3 linked regions of the Homo sapiens genome follow. The protein of the gene in region 2 interacts with the protein of the main gene of each other region in a pairwise test. Each region holds a gene or a part of one and is shown on either strand. Other genes may lie near its edges.

What was found. Proteins that work in one complex are often made in the same cells at the same time.
Region 1: the proteins of AGFG1 (region 2) and DNAJC5 come close enough for resonance energy transfer, tested with the Homo sapiens proteins (one study listed by BioGRID).
Region 3: the proteins of AGFG1 (region 2) and POLE2 interact in binary tests that used the Homo sapiens proteins (3 or more experiments, as listed by UniProt).

The regions. Positions count from the first base shown.
Region 1 is NC_000020.11:63,890,433-63,898,148, reverse strand, and holds the start of DNAJC5 (dnaJ homolog subfamily C member 5), read right to left. Parts: upstream 3,024-7,716; 5' UTR 2,826-3,023; exon of another isoform or gene 1,141-2,825; intron 1-1,140. UniProt on the Homo sapiens protein: Acts as a general chaperone in regulated exocytosis. Acts as a co-chaperone for the SNARE protein SNAP-25. Involved in the calcium-mediated control of a late stage of exocytosis. May have an important role in presynaptic function.
Region 2 is NC_000002.12:227,559,145-227,561,742, forward strand, and holds the end of AGFG1 (arf-GAP domain and FG repeat-containing protein 1), read left to right. Parts: 3' UTR 1-2,073; downstream 2,074-2,598. UniProt on the Homo sapiens protein: Required for vesicle docking or fusion during acrosome biogenesis. May play a role in RNA trafficking or localization.
Region 3 is NC_000014.9:49,650,192-49,657,227, forward strand, and holds part of POLE2 (DNA polymerase epsilon subunit 2), read right to left. Parts: intron 5,653-7,036; coding exon 5,480-5,652; intron 4,904-5,479; coding exon 4,814-4,903; intron 4,648-4,813; coding exon 4,593-4,647; intron 4,024-4,592; coding exon 3,964-4,023; intron 3,877-3,963; coding exon 3,799-3,876; intron 1,187-3,798; coding exon 1,078-1,186; intron 251-1,077; coding exon 74-250; coding exon of another isoform or gene 62-73; exon of another isoform or gene 1-61. UniProt on the Homo sapiens protein: Accessory component of the DNA polymerase epsilon complex. Participates in DNA repair and in chromosomal DNA replication.

The DNA of each region.
Region 1 (7,716 bases), on a different chromosome or scaffold from region 2:
CTGGTGATGCCAAATACTTAGAAGAAACCTGGTCTAGAGAAGACTCGAGTTCAAGTTCCAGCTCTGACGATTGTTAACAGGGAGACCTTGGGCAAAGGTGCTGGTCACGGAGGCAGCTGTACAACCAGGCTCAGTGGTATCCACCCTCCAAGCAAGGGGAACTGAGGAAAAATGCCTGAGAAACGTGCAGCGTCTGTTCAATCTCTGAACCACGTTAATACAACCATCTTCAGGGATGCAGGAAGGCCCTGAAGCCCACTCACTCTGAGTTAATGTAGGCATGAGGTGGAGGCTGTGGAAAGGACTCCAGAGTCTGCAAGTCACCAAGCAGCCTCTGTGGCTCTGTCACAGCACCACAGCTGAAGGGCCTCATGCTAAGGGGATCAGCCACAGTCACTCTCAGGCAGTCCTCCTGAATTAAGAGCCAGGGAGATCATTCCACCTCACTCTACTTAATTACCAAATGTCACGACGGAGTATAAGGACTAGCATGTAGGGTTTTTCCTGGTAATCAAAGACAAAATTTCTAAAAGCATTATTACCACTGGCAGATCTGACTTTTTATTTATTTTTATTTATTTGAGACTGAGTCTTGCTCTACCACCCAGGCTGGAGTGCAGTGTGGCGTGACCTTTGCTCACTGCAACCTCCACCTCCCAGGTTCAAGGGATTCTCCTGCCTCAGCCTCCTGAGTAGCTGGGATTACGGACGCCCACCACCACAACCAGCTAATTTTTATTTTTATTTTTTTTATAAGATGGAGTTTTGCTCTTTTTGCCCAGGCTGGAGTGCAGTGGCGCGATCTCGGCTCACTGCAACCTCCGCCTCCTGGGTTCAAGTGATTCTCCTGCCTCAGCCTCCCTAGTAGCTGGGATTACAGGCACACGCCACCACACCCAGCTAATTTTGTATTTTTAGTAGAGATGGGGTTTCACCATGTTGGCCAGGCTAGTCTCGAACTCCTGACTCCAAGTGATCCGTCCGCCTCAGCCTCCTAAAGTGCTGAGATTACAGGCATGAGCCACTGTGCCCCCAACAGATCTGACTTTTTAGAAACGTTTTAACTTCAAAATAATTATAGATTCAAAGTTGCGAAAAGATTTACAAGGGTCCCATGCACCCTTCCAAGCCACCCCTTACCTGGCTGTCTTTCCTCATTGGGCAGGTGAGAGATGGTGGCTCTCTGTCCTGAGGGCCAACACTCCAGGAACCCTTACCTCTACATGCTCAGTCCTCACCGACAAGGACTTCCGGGTGACAAGGCCAGCACCACGCACAGCTGCTGCTAAGCTCCTCACGTTCATTCACTGAACAAATATTTACTGGGCCCCGATCATGTGCCAGCAACTGTTTTTTTCACAAAACATTCTCTCCACGGACCTTACTAACTCACAGTAAAATATTAAGTATGATAAATGCATTAAGCAGGACACTAGGAGGATTCAGCGCTGTGGGAAAATTAAGCGAGGAAGGGAACTGGGTGGCAAGGCAGGCAGGCAGTCGCCAGGCTAGGGGGTTAAGGAACCAGGCATTCCAGGAAGATCCAAGGACAGAGCATGTGGCTCTGTTCAGAACTAGCAAGGAGGCTGATATGGCAGGTGCAGAGTGAGTCAGGGGCCAGTCTGAGGGTGGGTGGACTCAGACGCTGCAGGCTCATTAACACCCTCGCCAGGGGTGTCCCTCAGAGTCCACACAGCCAGCAACCAGAGCGGGCCCCTACAGCTCTCTGCTGGGCCAGACGCCAGCTGGAGCCACCCCGAGTCCTACAGCACCGACACAAGTGAAAGGGGAACTCAACCGAAACTTCCCCAAAGCCCTTAGATCCAGGCTTCTAATTTCATCTCTTGTTTGACAGACTACTCATTCCTGAAACTCAGCTGACATTTTTTTAAAAAGAGAAGCAAATAAACGAACATAAAATCTCAGAAGCTTTGAGTAAACTTTTGCCTTCAGGTAACCATGACAATAGTGGGAGCAATGTAACTGTTTTTGTCATTAGAATAGGTTTTTCTAAACAGGCAAATAAGGGCAGACGTGTCTAACCACCATCAAATCTTCCCAACCAAGCCTAAGCCGGAAAACAAAAATAAAGCTGAAATTTTTGCTTCCTTTTCCTGTATGACACAACTGAATGAATTTGAGAAATCATGGCTTCGGCACACGAAAAAGAGAGTCTTTAATCCAGACACTTAACACCAACAAGTTAGAACCTGAACGGACGAGTTCCTAATACTCTCCTTAAGAGTTCAATATAAAGCATGGCTTCAAATGTTTTTATAAAGCGGAGAAAACAGGTTTTTTCTAACAAACCAAATGCTTTTTGGAATTTACAACGTCGGAAAGATTAATTTACGATGCGTTACAGAACAATTTTCAATTCCCCGAGCTATAAACACAACGACCCAGGGACTAAATTATCTGCCTCCCTAAGACCAGCGATGGCCCAGCTTCTCCAGTCCCCCCGCAGGAGAGGAGACCCCGGGGGGTTGGGGGCGGCCGCGGGGACCTGGGGGAGCGGAGGGGGCGTCCGGGCCCGAAGAGACCCGCGGAGAGCGCCGCCCCAGCCCCCACCACGGTGCTCAGACCCCCGGCCCGGCCCGGCCCGGCTCCCGCAGGCCCCGGCGCCGACCTTCCCGCGCCCCCGCCCCGGCCCAGGCCGCGGCGTCGCAGCAGCTCCGGCCCCGAGCGCCCGCGCAGCCCCGGCCCGGGGGTCGCCGCCATTTCCGGCTCTGGAGTGCCGCCCCCGCCCCCCACCCGCGCCCGCCCGCCCGCCTGCCCGGGCCTGACGTGGGCCGATCCGCCCGCCCGACCCGCAGCGAGCTCACCTGCCCGTCCGCCCGCCCGCCCGCCCTCCCGCCGGCTCCGCGGCTCCGCTCCCCGATTCGCGGCGCTGCTGGGCAGCGGCCGACGCACTCCTCAGCCTGGAGACCCCGGGCGGCGGCGGCGGCGGCGGCAGAGGGCGCGGGTGCGGCACCGGCAGCGGCAGCGGCAGCGGCAGCGGAGACGAGCACGCTCACGCACGCACCCGCACCGGCGCGCGCGCTCCCGGAAGGACGTGGGCTCCGGCGTGTCGGAGCCGCGGGTGGGACCGGCTGCGCATGCGCTCAGAGAGCCGAGCGGAGGCTCCGTCCATGAAGGGGCGGAGTCCCGAGTGACAGCCCGGGGCCGAGGCGCCCTGTGGAGGCTCCGCCCATGAGTGGGCGGGGACGAAGCGCGGGGGCGGAGCCAGTCCTCCCAGTCTTCAGGTGGCCGCAGGTGGGTCCCGGGTGGACACGCCATGTGCTGCGGGGAACCGCGCAGAAAGAGAAGCGCAGGGCTTGCTGGTCTTGCAGGTGAGTTTACTCAGCGCTTTAAGTAAGACTGAGAAAACGTAATCGTTCTCATCAAAGAACTGAACAGGGAGCTGGTGGGAGACGGCTGCGGACCGTCGCCCCCGCCCCCACCCGGAGCCACCGTCCTGGGACTGACATTTGCTCAACCCTGGAGCGCCGAGATGGGACGTCCTTCCTTCCTTCCTGTCCAACCACTGAAATGCCGTCGCCAGCGCCCTCCCACCCTCCCGGAATCATCTCCAAACAGCAGCGTGGAGAGGCAGGACCACGAACGTCCACTCCACCTCCCTCTGCCCTTGCCCATCCCGTCGGCCACCCTTCCCTGTCCCTGTAACTGCAGGCGCTCCGCCACTCACTGACGGCCTGCCCCGCGTAGGCTGCCTGGGCCACTTCCCATCCTAGAAGCTCCCAGACCTCTGCGGCCGGTGCTCCTGCCTCCTCGCTTCCACCCTTGCCCGTTTACCTGAGTTCAGTGCGGTCATCTTTTTAAAACAAACCCAGTAGCATCCAAGGCTTCCCGTGACACACTGCGTGAAACCCAAATTCTCTCTCAACACGCTCTGGCCTCCTTCCTCTGCCCTCATAACTCACTGCCATAATGCCGGTCTTGAATTGCCAAGCTTGTTCCAGTCTCACAGCCTGGAAGTGTCAGAGCTTGGGAAGCCTCCTAGCAGTCATTAAGCTGCGCAACATCAAGCAGGCAGCAAGAAAAGGCCTATGGAACCCAAGAAGCAGAAAGGCCAGGTTCATATCTACAACTATAGATTCCAAGAGAATGAAATATTTCAGGCCAGAATTGGAGGGATGAGAGAATGAAATGGGCCTGGTACCGATCTCAGATTGAAGCTATATTCCACTTGTGCTGGGAGCTGCAAGAATGAATGAACCAGCCTTAAGTGAGTCCCTCTGAGACCTAGCAGTTCCACTTTAGGGACATTCTTCCAAAGAAAATATTCCTAAATACAGAAAAAGGTATATGCACTGAAATATTCATGAAGGCACTATTTTTAATAGCGAGAATGGAAACCTGCCCAACTGCACAAGTGAGCACTCAAATGGAATAATATAGTTACTGAAATGTATACAACGGGACCCATGGCTCACGCCTGGAATCTCAGCACTTTGGTAGACCAAGGCAGGAAGATCACTGGAGCCCAGGAGTTTGAGACCTGCCTGGACAACATAGTGAGACCACCATCTCTATAAAAAAAAATTTTTTTAATTGGCCCGGCCACAGTGGCATGCATGCCCCTGTAGTCCCAGCTACTCAGGAGGCTGGATCGGGTGGGAAGTCAAGGCTGTAGTGAGCCATGATTGTGCCACTGCATTCCTGCCTGGGTGACAGAGCAAGACCCCATCTCTTATTTAAAAAGAAGAAAAAAAGAAAGATAATGTGTAGAAAGGCTACACAGGAGCAAAGAACTCCTGAAACTAAAATGAGCACGATGCATGATATGTAAAAAGTATATTATCACACATATATCTATCCATGAACATTCCAGCCTGCTTGGAGAAAATAAGACAGGAAGGTACGCCCGGGCACAGTGGCTCACACCTGTAATCCCAGCACTTTGGGAGGCCGGGGTGGGCGGATCACCTGAGGTCAGGCGTTCAAGACCAGCCTGGCCAACATGGCAAAACCCTGTCTCTACTAAAAATACAAAAATTAGCTGGGCGTGGTGGCATGCCCCTGTAAATCCCATCTGCTCGCGAGGCTGAGGCAGGAGCATCGCTTGAGCCCAGGAGGTGGAGGTTGCAGTGAGCTGAGATTGCACCACTGCACTCCAGCCTGAGCGACAGAGTGAGACCCTGTCTCAAAAAAAAAAAAGAAGACAGGAAAGTTGACAGTGGCTACAGTTGGGAAGAGTCTGATGTTTACCTCTGATACATCAGGCCCTGTGCTAAGTGCTTTATAAGGTTAAGCCTTTCAATATGATGAGGCAGATACCATTACCCTCACTCTGAGAAGAGGGGACTGAGCCTTCAGGCATTGCTGCCCGCTCCTCAGGTCCACTTACTCCACTTGCTCCATCCTCGAAGCTCTCCAAGCGCTTCACCTCGTCAAACACAAGCCAGTGACTTAGGGGAATCTGTCTTCCCCAACAAACGGGTTGCAAAGTCCTTGAGCACTGGGTCCACATCAGATTCACCCTTGTACCCCACAAAACCTAGCAGACTCTTACCCGCAGGGCAGTTACAGTATCTGTTCAATAAATGAAGAACACATGAACTCATTCCAAAATAAATTAGTGTAAATCTTGACTGCAGGCGGCAATAGTGCATTTCACCCTTTATTGGTACCAGCTCCCTGCTGTATTGGGGCTTATGTACCATACAATTCGAGGTCACCTAACTTTCCCTGCTCTTACATCTGGGGTGAGCCCAGCTACCTCTGACCTCCAAAGGAAGACTGGTGCTCCCACTAGTTTTCCAGTGGGAACTCCAAAGACTAGGAATGGATACATGCAAAGCGCCAGACCAGGGGCAGAGTGGAGGTTCCCCCTCAAGGGTCTTTTCCTTTTTCTTTTTCTTTTTTTTTTTTTTTTTTGAGACAGAGTCTCGCTTTATCGCCCAGGCCGGAGTGCAATGGCGTGATCTCGGCTAACTGCAACCTCCACCTCCCGGGTTCAAATGATTCTCCTACCTCAGCCTCCTGAGCAGCTGGGATTACAGGTGTGAACCACCACACTCGGCTAATTATTTCACTTTTTTGTAGAGTCAGGGCCTGGCTACGATGCTCAAGCTGGTGTCAAACTCCCAGGCTCAAGTGATCCTCCCATCTTGGCCTTCCAAAGTCCTGAGCTTACAGACATGAGCCACCACACCCAGCCTACTGTTTTTAGTTGAGATGGAATCCCGGTATGCTGCCCAGGCTGGTCCTGAACTCCTGGGCTCAGGTGATCTGCCTCACCCTCCAGAATGGCGGGGACTACAGGTGTGCTCAGCAGCAGCTCAGTGCTTGCAGGGGCAGCTGGCGAAGCCTCTGGAGCTCCCGGCCCAACCTGGAGCCTGGTGAGCTCCTCCTCCGCCTCCTGGGGCTCAGTTTCAACTCCTCTTCCCAAGACGCTGGGTCTGACCTCACAGGTTGGCCATATACCATTCTCCCCTCACAGCTGGCTCCCCTTGTCCCAGCATTGAGGACCTGCCCTTTGTCTTTAGCACTGTCCCCTGCCTGCCTCTCCCAAGGGTGCGGACTCATTAGGGCAGGTACCGTGTGCCAGTTCATTTACCACTCTTATCATGGTCCCGAACGATACATCACACAAGCCGAGGCGGACTTTCCCCCAAAGGAATGCTTTATTGACAAATTACCCATTATTATAATAACTTTAAGGAAAAGATACATCGGTCAACACCCGCACAACCTGCCTTCTCACCACACCCCACAGGCCGATTTTAACCCTGGACGAAGGGCACCGAGCGCTGGGCTTCCCTGGCCCCTGCATCTCTGTCGTGTGTGGAGTGCCATCCCCAAGGGTGTCTGAACTGTCCGGGGACACGGCTGTCAGAGGACACTTGCTCTACCGAACAGGACACCTTGAGCTGAGCAGCCCTTCCCCTCCCGGGAGTGGCAGAGCCGGGCACACCACAGGCAGGCCCTCAGTGTCCTGCCAAGAGCCACTAAGGCACAGAGCTCCCCCTGCAGACCACGCCATCTGACATGCAGGGCCCCGGTGTGCGAGAGAGGCTGCTGGGGTGCGACTATTTAGTAACAGGAAGAGATCTTTGTAGCTCCTGAGAAAAAGACTGTAACGGCAATCCTGGCTGATGCCCACGCCCCACCCTCCACCTGACCTGTGGGGTCGTTTCATCCCAAGTACAGCAAGCAGGAGGGTTGGAGTCACTGACGAATGTGAGCCGGGCCAGGCCCATGCAAAGGCAGCACTGAGAAGGGGGGCACAGTTCTTTTAAAGGGTGCTAAAGACAGGGTTTTCCTTCTCTTGGCCCCTCCCATTCCCAGAGGCTCAAGAGCCCTTTAGGGCAGGGCATAGGAGCCAGCGGGAGCTGCCACGGTTGAGAAGAGAAGCAGGTTTTGTACACTGGGATGGAGTGTGCGTGACATAAAACACCTCAACTGGAAGAGGCTGCCACGCAGGCCAGGTGTAAAATTCCACACAATGCTCACAACCATTAAGGAACCCTCATCTATATACATATAAAAATTAGAAAGAAATAAAGCATAAGGCAATGTAAGGCTTGTATTTCAGCTTGAGTCCAAAGAAATAATATTCTATGAGGCTAAAGCTGCTTTGCCTAATTTAAACTTTTTGAAAAGTCCACTGCATTTAAAAAATAATGAATTTGCTTCCGTTAAAGCTAGATTCGCGTAACAATCAGGCAGCTGCTGAGGGTCAGTTTCCTTTCTGGGGGTCTCAGAAAATGG
Region 2 (2,598 bases):
TTCTGTCTGCAGTTCTGTTTTGTGTGACCAGCACAGTGTTTTAAAACGTTGCATTCTGAATCCATCTTTTTGAAATGGGGCATGTACTCTTAAGGTGGCCACTAGCTTACCATTCCCAATTTTTCTTAGTCTCAAACATTCACATGTTTTTCAAGGCCTTGGAGTTGGCAAATCCTGAATATATAGTGAAGGTAGGAAATAGCTCTTCTTATGCCACATCTTAGTCTGATTTTGAAGTCAGTTGTGTAAGTTTGGGCTGACAGTGGTATTTTCCAGTGAAGACTATCGCCAAGAATGCATATCATTCTGCTTATTTTATTCTAGTGGATAAAAATTCAACGTATATTTAAGTGTATTTTTGACATCTGTGCTTGTCCAACACAGGGCTGTAGGGACTGATGAAAAGAGAATGTTGTGATTTGAGCTTTTATAAAAAAAGATAAGTGATCCTAGATAAAATATTTTAGATGGTGATTAAAATGCCCATAGATTAATTTTTTAATCGGTTCTCTGAAATCTTGAGATGTTATCCAAGTTACAATTTAAGCAATGAGAGTAAAATTTGAATTCTAAATTCTCAGCATCTTCCCTCATTCTTGAGTGGAGAGACAGAGGAAGCAAACGCCAAGGAGCCTTCTAATTTTGACTATATGATCATTAACTAAAGGCAGCAAGGGATTGTAAACTAATCTTACATAGTCAATGTTTCATAGAATGCTTTGGTTACAATCAGGTTTTTTAAAGACTTTAAAGGTTTTTTGTATGCTATAATATATGCTTATGATTTCTAAAAATTATGCAGTATACACAAAGGGCATAAAGTCAAAAAGTGTGTCTCCCTCTGTGACTTTATTCTCATACCCCAGAGGCATATAATTTCTTGTATTCTTGTGTAGTCTTTAAGAAATGTTATCGTTTATTTTATATATGGCTCTCTCTCTGTATGCCTCTTCCTGTTCTTATTTTAAATGTTCAAGTTTGTGACTTGGTTCTTGTTTAACTTGGTTGTCTTTCCATATTGCCACCTTCCAGCTCTAACATTAATGTCTCCAGGATTCCATTATATGGATGTCCCTTTGGGAGAACATTTGTTTATAGACTTTTCTACTAAAAATATTGTTATAATGATAATATCCTTATGCATATATGAAGATTACTCTTGATTCTGCCTGACTGGAAACTTTATTAATAAAGTAGACATTATTCTATTTTGAGGCTCACCAGCTGTGTAGGTATGATCTTGTGCTTCCATTTAAGAAATTCTTCCATTTAAAGAAGAAAAAAAATCTCTCTGACTATCTGAAGATATATGAAAAAGCCTATGCTTTTAAATTAAACTGTTAAGACAGTCCATTGAAAGATTGTGGAAGTTCACATCTATTTTGCACCTTAATTTTTTCATTGTCCCTACTCATGACTCTAAAAAGTGCATGGCTTGGGGCTATACTTTGTTTTGCAGTTTGTTGGTATCGTGCCTTTCCTTATCTACATTAGCTTAGACTATACCTTATTTTTAAGAAGAGAAAGTGGAAATTAACTGTGGCAAAACCTATTTTGGCACAACCACATTTGTTCATTATACAAAATTAGCTTCCTATGCTTTAGAAAAAATGTGAGTTATTACTCTGAAAGTTGTGATTCTGATTCCTCATGGTTTGGAGCTCAGAAATTTCTTAACATGTCTTTGCTGTTAGTCAAGCACAGGATTTGTTTTCTGCAAAAGTTTATTTTCAATGAAGAATACTTGTCCTAATAGCTCATAAAAAGTACCTTTGCACTTTAAATCCTAGGAATAGGGAACAAGGAAACTTACTGGGAAGTTCAAAAGAAAGAATAACAGGACCTTCTAGTCAGCAGGGCATGTTTGGAAAATGTTAATACGCCATGATTTTTGAAGACCAATTTTAGTTCAGGAGGTGGTTTTAAATATTGGATGAAAACTTACAGGCTGTTTTCAATATTCATTTCTGAAATACTTTAGTATGATAGATAAATTTGGTTAAGTTCTTGTTCATTGTGAAATACTGTTGGAAGAATTTTTTTCAAAATAAAGACTTCTGAATTTGTGTACCATTTGGGAATAGCCTCTTTCATTTAAATGAGTGTCAAATCTGGAAAATTGGAAGAATATTTGTTCCTTTCATCACTCACATTATGCATTTCTGTAAAGCAGCTCATGCATTTACTTCCAGCTTAACGTGTTTTCCATTAATTAATAAGTTTTGCCATTTTTTTCTGTATTTTTCAATTAAAAAGTCTTCATTTTTAAAAAGCAGGATCTATTTGTTACTTAATTTGCAATATTTTTTTTTCAAAGATGGATTTTTTTTTTTCTGGAGTACACATTGATGGAAGTTGGTTTTAAGAAAGCATTGTAATGGGAATTTACCTACCTTACTACTGTTGAAGTTTAGAAGGTAAATGCTGAACTGTGTTTGTCACATCCCTAATCTTATTTCTCTGTAGTGGTCACTGACTATTATTTGTTATGAGTCCATCTTGATTATTCTGTACATCTTGTTTAAATTATTTTCACTAACCATCACCAGAACACAGAAGAAAATTTTGTTTCCTTAGAATCAATGAGTATTTCCACCA
Region 3 (7,036 bases), on a different chromosome or scaffold from region 2:
ATATATTTTTAAATTAAAAAATGCACTCTAATCTTGATAAATAATGACTATATAAGATTAACTACATTCTTACAGGGTTTATGCAGAGGCATTCGGTATTTGTCGTAGTGAAAGGATCATATTTGTCTGCAATGACAAGTAGATCGGGCACAGGATACACTCTCAAAGCATAGTCATATGCCCAATACACTGGGCAGACATAAAGAGGTAGGGGAGTCAGATGTCCTTGGGATAAGATAGTCTTTACAAACTACAAAAGAGCACAAAACAAAGCAAACTTCAGTTCATTTGCAAAAGTGAAAATAGCTAAACAAATAATTTCAAATTAAATATTAATTACCAAAAGGAACCAGAAAATTTGAGAAACTAGGAAAGCTTTGACTCACAGAGCTTTGGGAGACACTAATTTAAAAGTGAAATAAACTATTCTGTATTTTAGGAAAAAAAATCTATGAGTTTTCATTTAATAACATATACATCATTATGCTGCCCAGGCTGGTCTCAAACTCCTGGCCTCAAGCAAGCCACCCAAAGTGCTGGGATTACAGGCATAAGCCACTGCACCTGGTCCATAAACTTTAAATATTATAAAATGAATAATAAAAATGCTCTGTAACATCTATTTCCGTACTTCTCAAATGGGGGTGTATGTAACCTGTGATTGACAACTATTGTCAGGGAACCTCGAAGCTACAAGATAAATACTGCACATTCTTGTGATATGGACATACTATATAAAATATGTAACCAATGGGATAAATAAGAACAGTTTATTAAAACAAATATACATATATTTTCAAGTATAATTTAAGAGTTTAAAAGGCAAAACACGAAGCTTGAAAGAAATTTCATGCTTATTCTCAGCTTTTCTCTGTCCTCTAAAGGACATACACTTAGGTAGAAAGCTGAGAAACACTGACTTCACTAACAAAAATTAACTTACTGACAAAAGTACGTTCAAACTATTTTGAACCATAAATAAATGTCCTAACCCAAGGACAAATTATTAAGTGGCTTAATAAAATTTTATATAATGCAACATGTAAGGCAGTTTAATAAAAAAGTTGTTTCACTTACGTGATTAGGAATAGCCAAATTGCTGCTAGGAAAACGGACGCAGTTTCTGCACATTTTATTTACTAAGTCTTCACGGAAGACAGTAATTTCCTGTGTACAGTACTGAATTCTGAAATGAAAACAGTAGTTGAATTTGACTTCTCAGAAAAAAATGATATTAATTTTAAAGGTAAAATCTCTTACAATACAACCCCATTCCCACATTCACTGTTCACCACACAAAACTTCAACCAGAGTCTGTCTATTCATCTATTCATTTAACAGCTATGTATTGAGCTCTTAATATATGCCTACCCCATTCTAGGGATTAGCGAACAGAACCAAAAGATCCCAGCCCTCATACAGTTTACATTCTAGTAGGGGGTGGGGCTGAGAAAATAAAAAGCGAACATAATCATATAGTATGTTTTAAGATAATTAAGCATAAGAGAAAAAGAAAAAGACAGGCTAAGAGGGACAGCATATGTGGTAAGAGAGAGCCTAGAAGGCGGGCATATTAATAGGATGATCAGAACAGGCCGGGCTCATAATTTAGTGTGACTTGAGCACAGGCTTGAAGCGGAAGAGGGACTTAGTCAAGCAGATACCCAGAGGAAGCGCACTGCAGGCAAAGGGAACAGATGGAGCCCAGGCCCTCAGACTGGAGCTCGCCTGGCATCCTTGAGGAACAGAAGGGAGGCTAGTGTGGCTGGAGTAAATGGGGAGGAGAGGAAATCAGAGAGGTAACGGAGCCAGATAACACAGGGCCTTGATTACCACTGCAAGGATACGGCTGTCACTAAATCACGAGGGGTCCCTTTTTCCAATGAGGGTCCCTTTTTCCAGGATCGGGAAGGTGGATGGGATATGCCTTATGCTTTACAGGATCACTTTCACACTGCGTTAAGAATAGAATACGGAGAGGAGAATGGCATGAACCCGGGAGGCGGAGCTTGCAGTGAGCCGAGATCGCGCCACTGCACTCCAGCCTGGGCAACAGAGCGAGACTCCGTCTCAAAAAAAAAAAAAAAAAAAAAAAAAAAAAAAAAAAAAAAAAAAAAAAAGAATAGAATACGGAGGGGAAGGAGTAAAAGCTGGAGACCAATTAGGAGGCTATTGTAATAATCCAGGCCGAGAAGATGGCAGAGCAGGGCTCCTCAACCTCCAGGCCATGGACTGGTACCAGTCCATGGTCTGTTAGGAACTGGACCACACAGCAGGAGGTGAGCAGCAGGCTGCAAGCAAGCAAAGCTTCATCTGTATTTACAGCCACTCCCCATCGGTTGTATTACATCCTGACCTCTGCCTCCTGTCAGATCAGCAGGGGCATTAGATTCTCACAGGAGCACGAATCCTGTTGTGAACTGTACACGTGAGTGATCTAGGCTGCACACTCGTTATAAGAATCTAATGTCTGATGATCTGTCACTGTCTCCCATCATCCCCAGATGGGACCGTCTGGTTTCAGGAAAACAAGCTTAGGGCTCCTACTGATTCTATATTATGGTAAGTTGTATAATTGTTTTATTATATATTATAATGTAATAATAATAGAAATAAAGTGCACAATAAGTGTAATACGCTTGAATCATCCCAAAATCACCCCCACCCCCCCTGGCGTCTGTCTCCCATAAGATCAGTCCCTGGTGCCAAAAAGGTTGGGGACCACTGTGGTAGAGGGTTGTGGAGGTAGAGGTATAGAGAGAGAGCAGATTCTGGATATAATTTGAAGTTAATGGGACTTCCTGAAAAAACATGTGAGAGAAACCCCAAAGTGTTTGGCCTGAACAACTGGAATAATCATTGTTCAGACCATGAAGGTGTCATGAACTAACATGGAGAAGTCTACAGAAGAGGTTAGGGACACTCGTGGGGAGGAAGATCAGGAGTTCACTTAGGTTGGGATGGTGATAAGTAGGCAACTGGATACCTGAGTCTGGAGTTTGGAAGGTAGGTTGAAGTGGAAATATAAATGTGGAAGGTGTCAATACACAGATGATACTTAAAGCCAGAGGACACTGGAGAAGGCCAGCAAAGGAGTGAATGTAGGCAGAAAAGAGGCGAACCAAGGCTGCCTCTGATGGTATTCCCACAGGAAGAACTTATGATTACAATGAGCAATACGAACAGTAAATAAGTAATCTTTGTATTCTTCCTTTGTAACCTTTCTTAAAGGATATGTAGTAATAATATCTATTTTTAAACTGCTATCCATTATTCAAGAGTCTGAATTGACTACCAATAAATTATTTAAATATAGTTAAACTATTTTCAAAGTTTTGAGAAACCTAAAACAAAAATAAATTTTCTTCTTATATTTATTCCATAACAGTCGAAATTCAGAGACACATTTTAGGAATCAAGTTAGTTTTTTTGTTTTTTGTTTTTTTTGTTTTTTTGTTTTTTGTTTTTTTGAGACAGGGTCTTGCTCTGTCGCCCAGGCTGCAGGCTGGAATGCAGTAGTGCATTCTCAGCTCACAGCAACCTCTCCACCTACCAGGCTCAAGTGATCCTCCCATCTCAGCCTCTTCATAGAACCACAGGCGCGTGCCACCAAGCCCAGCTAATTTTTGTACTTTTTGTAGAGATGGGTTTCACTGTGTTGCCAAAGCTGGTCTCGGAACTCCAAGCAACCTGCCTGCCTCGGCCTCCCAAAGTGCTGAGATTACAGACATGAGCCACCACACCTGGCTAATTTTTAAATGAAAGGAAAAATGTATAACACAAAATACTAATTCTTACCTGCAAGGATTAGTAGTAAAAACTGAAAATGGTACCCTTTGTCTGAATTCATTAGTGATGCTTTCAGCAAGTGGTGGCCTATAAAAACAATTTATGTGATATAGTTTATCTTTTTAAGTTTTACAAAATTTTCTACACTGTTGCAAAAATCTGAACAAAACTTACCTTGGTAAGATGGAACCAAATCCAGGATCCTCTGGACCAGGTACAAACACAAAACGACTACTGTAGCAAAATTCAACACAATTCATTTAAAAATATTATTGTAACACTATCCAATAGCTTAAAAGCAAGTTATTCCCTTTGTTTTCTCTTTAAAATTAAAAAACATTTAAATTTCATGCATTATAATAAATGAACTATTAAGTCTCCAGACCAACACTGTCTAGTAATGTCATGATAGAAAAGTTCTATATCTGCACTGCCCAATTGAACACTTGAATTGTGGCTAGCATAGCTGATGGACTGAATTTTATATTTAAATTTAATTAAACTTAGATTTAAAGAGACATGTGGCCAGTGACTATCATATCGGAGAGTGAAGCTCTAGACTCTTAAGAGTAATGCCACGAAGAAATTCCAAGTATGGCTGAAATTACCTCTATCCCTTTCAATACTTTTCATTATAAACCTCTAGTACAATGTGAGGATAACTTTATCTCTTAGTTCTTTTAATTTTCTCAACTTTATCTTTCTTCCTTAGTTTTGTAATAATTGCTGATATAACAAAATTCATTTTTTGTTTTTTTTTTAAGTAAAACGGTGAAAAAATATATAGTGCTAGAGATCATTACCTTTGGTGAATATCTGGGTATTCACATATTATATCTGCCAAAGTTTTTAGGGAATCTAAAATTTTAAAAAGGTATTGAATTAAATTTGCATATAATGCCATAAAATTATATTTGATTAGATACAATCCTGTATATTCTTAATTAAAATATTATGGATAATTTCTTATTACTTTAGTTTATATGACTATAGAAACACTTCTTATTAAATAGATCGTTAATACCTTTCAAAGCTTGAACTTGATTTTTTCCATATGGTGCAGATGAAAAATTACCACACAGAATAAAGCAGGTTGGAGGTGCTGGTGAATAACCTAAACAATAAAAGAGTAAATGAACAATACTTTTCTAGTCTACAAATCAAGTTAAAAACCCTTTAACCATGACTTTCTAATAATAAAAATTTATTTTAATTAAAATAACATTTTAATAACTTATTAAAATAATACTAATAACAGTAGCCATTCATTGAGCACTTACTATAGGCCAGGCCTGCATTGGCTTAATTACTCCTCAGAACATCCATAAAATCTGAGACTTAGGTTAAGTAACCTGCCCAGGGTAATAGGCTTGCACTTAAACCCAGTTTGTTTTTGTTTTTGTTTAGAGATGGGGTCTCACTATGTTGTCCAGCTGGTCTTGAACTTCAGGACTAATTCTTACTTATCATGACTATAAACACACACACACACACACACACACACACACACAGGTTTTTTTCTTAATGTAAAAATTTAAGTCTTTAAAATGAAATCTAATTTAAATTATCTCATTGCTAACTCTGTTTTTTTTTAAATAGAATACTCAAAAAGATAAATAGAATACTCAAAAAGTTTTAAAACATGAACCCTTAAAAGAGTTCAAGAAAGAAGAAAAAAAATAAGACCTACCAGCAAACATTATGCGAAGTTTTTCCAATACTTCCACCTGGTCCAACCAAACATCAGATAAAAACACAAACATAGCATCTTTATTCTCCTCTTCTAGCTGTTTTAGTTTTGCAGAAGTCTTCACAGATGTATTAGAAGGACCTCCAAAAAAATTAATATTTCCATAGTATGCCCTAGATAATTATAACATAATTATCTTCTATATACCACTAGAGATATTTTTCTAATAGTTGTATACATTTAGCTTCTTTGTATCTAATGAAGTTATTTTCCAGTGTAAAAAGGTACTCTTTGTAACACTTTAAAAGTACAAAGGTTATCTAAATATTCTAAAACAAGATAAGCAATATGGAAGCAGTAAATAAAATAATAGGCTATATCTGTGTCTTAAAACTGACTAAACGGCCGGGCACGGTGGCTCACGCCTGTAATCCCAGTACTTTGGGAGGCCGAGGCGGGCGGATCACGAGGTCAGGAGATCGAGACCATCCTGGCTAACACAGTGAAACCCCATCTCTACTAACAATACAAAAAATTAGCCGGGCGACGTGGCGGGCGCCTGTAGTCCCAGCTACTCTGGAGGATGAGACAGGAGAATGGCGTGAACCCCGGGGGGCGGAGCCTGCAGTGAGCCGAGATTGCGCCACTGCACTCCAACCTGGGCGACAGTGAGACTCTTGTCTCAAAAAAAAAAAAAAAAAACTGACTAAAGCAAACATTAAAATAATAATTTCCTATGTCACTGAAAGTAGAAGAAATGAGTACACCATTTGAACAATATCTCATAGAAACCTCAAAATATGTGCTAACCATCTGCCCAAGTAATTCTACTTCTGGAATGGCTAATCCTAAGGAATTAAAGATATATACAAAGACTAGCCTATATCCAAGAACTGTGAAAAAATTATTCAACGGTTCCTTCAAAGCTTGGTTTTATTCAATGCTCACCAAGCAAGGGTCAGTAGGAAAGTGGGTAATCTACACACTCCCAGCCTCCACCACTCTTGCCCACTCTACACTGACATCCTGCAGTTCCCAGCTTAAATGCAAATACCCCATAGGCCTCCTCTGAGGATCCCAAAAGAGGTTAGATTTTCCCATTATACACTCTCATAGGAACCTGTACTTCTCCTTTGCAGATCTTATCAAATTTGTAATCAGGCCAGGGTGGCTCACACCTATAATCCCAGCACTTTGGGAGGCCGAGGTGGGGGGATTGCTTGAGGTCAGGAGTTCAAAACCAGCCTGACCAACATGGTGAAATCCACCCCATCTCTATTAAAAATGTGAAAATTAGCCGGGCATGGCAGCAGGCACCTATAATTCCAGCTACTCGGGAGGCTGAGGCAGGAGAATCGCTTGAACCTAGGAGATGGAGGTTGTAGTAAGCCGAGATCATGCCACTGCACTCCAGCTTGGGCAACAAAGCAAGATTTTGCCTCAAAAAAAAAAAAAAAAATTGTAGTCAGCCAATTGTAATTGGGCGATTGTTTCATGTCTGTCTCCCCACCTAGTGGCAATACAGTATGTGCTCAAAACATATTTCCTGAATGTCAC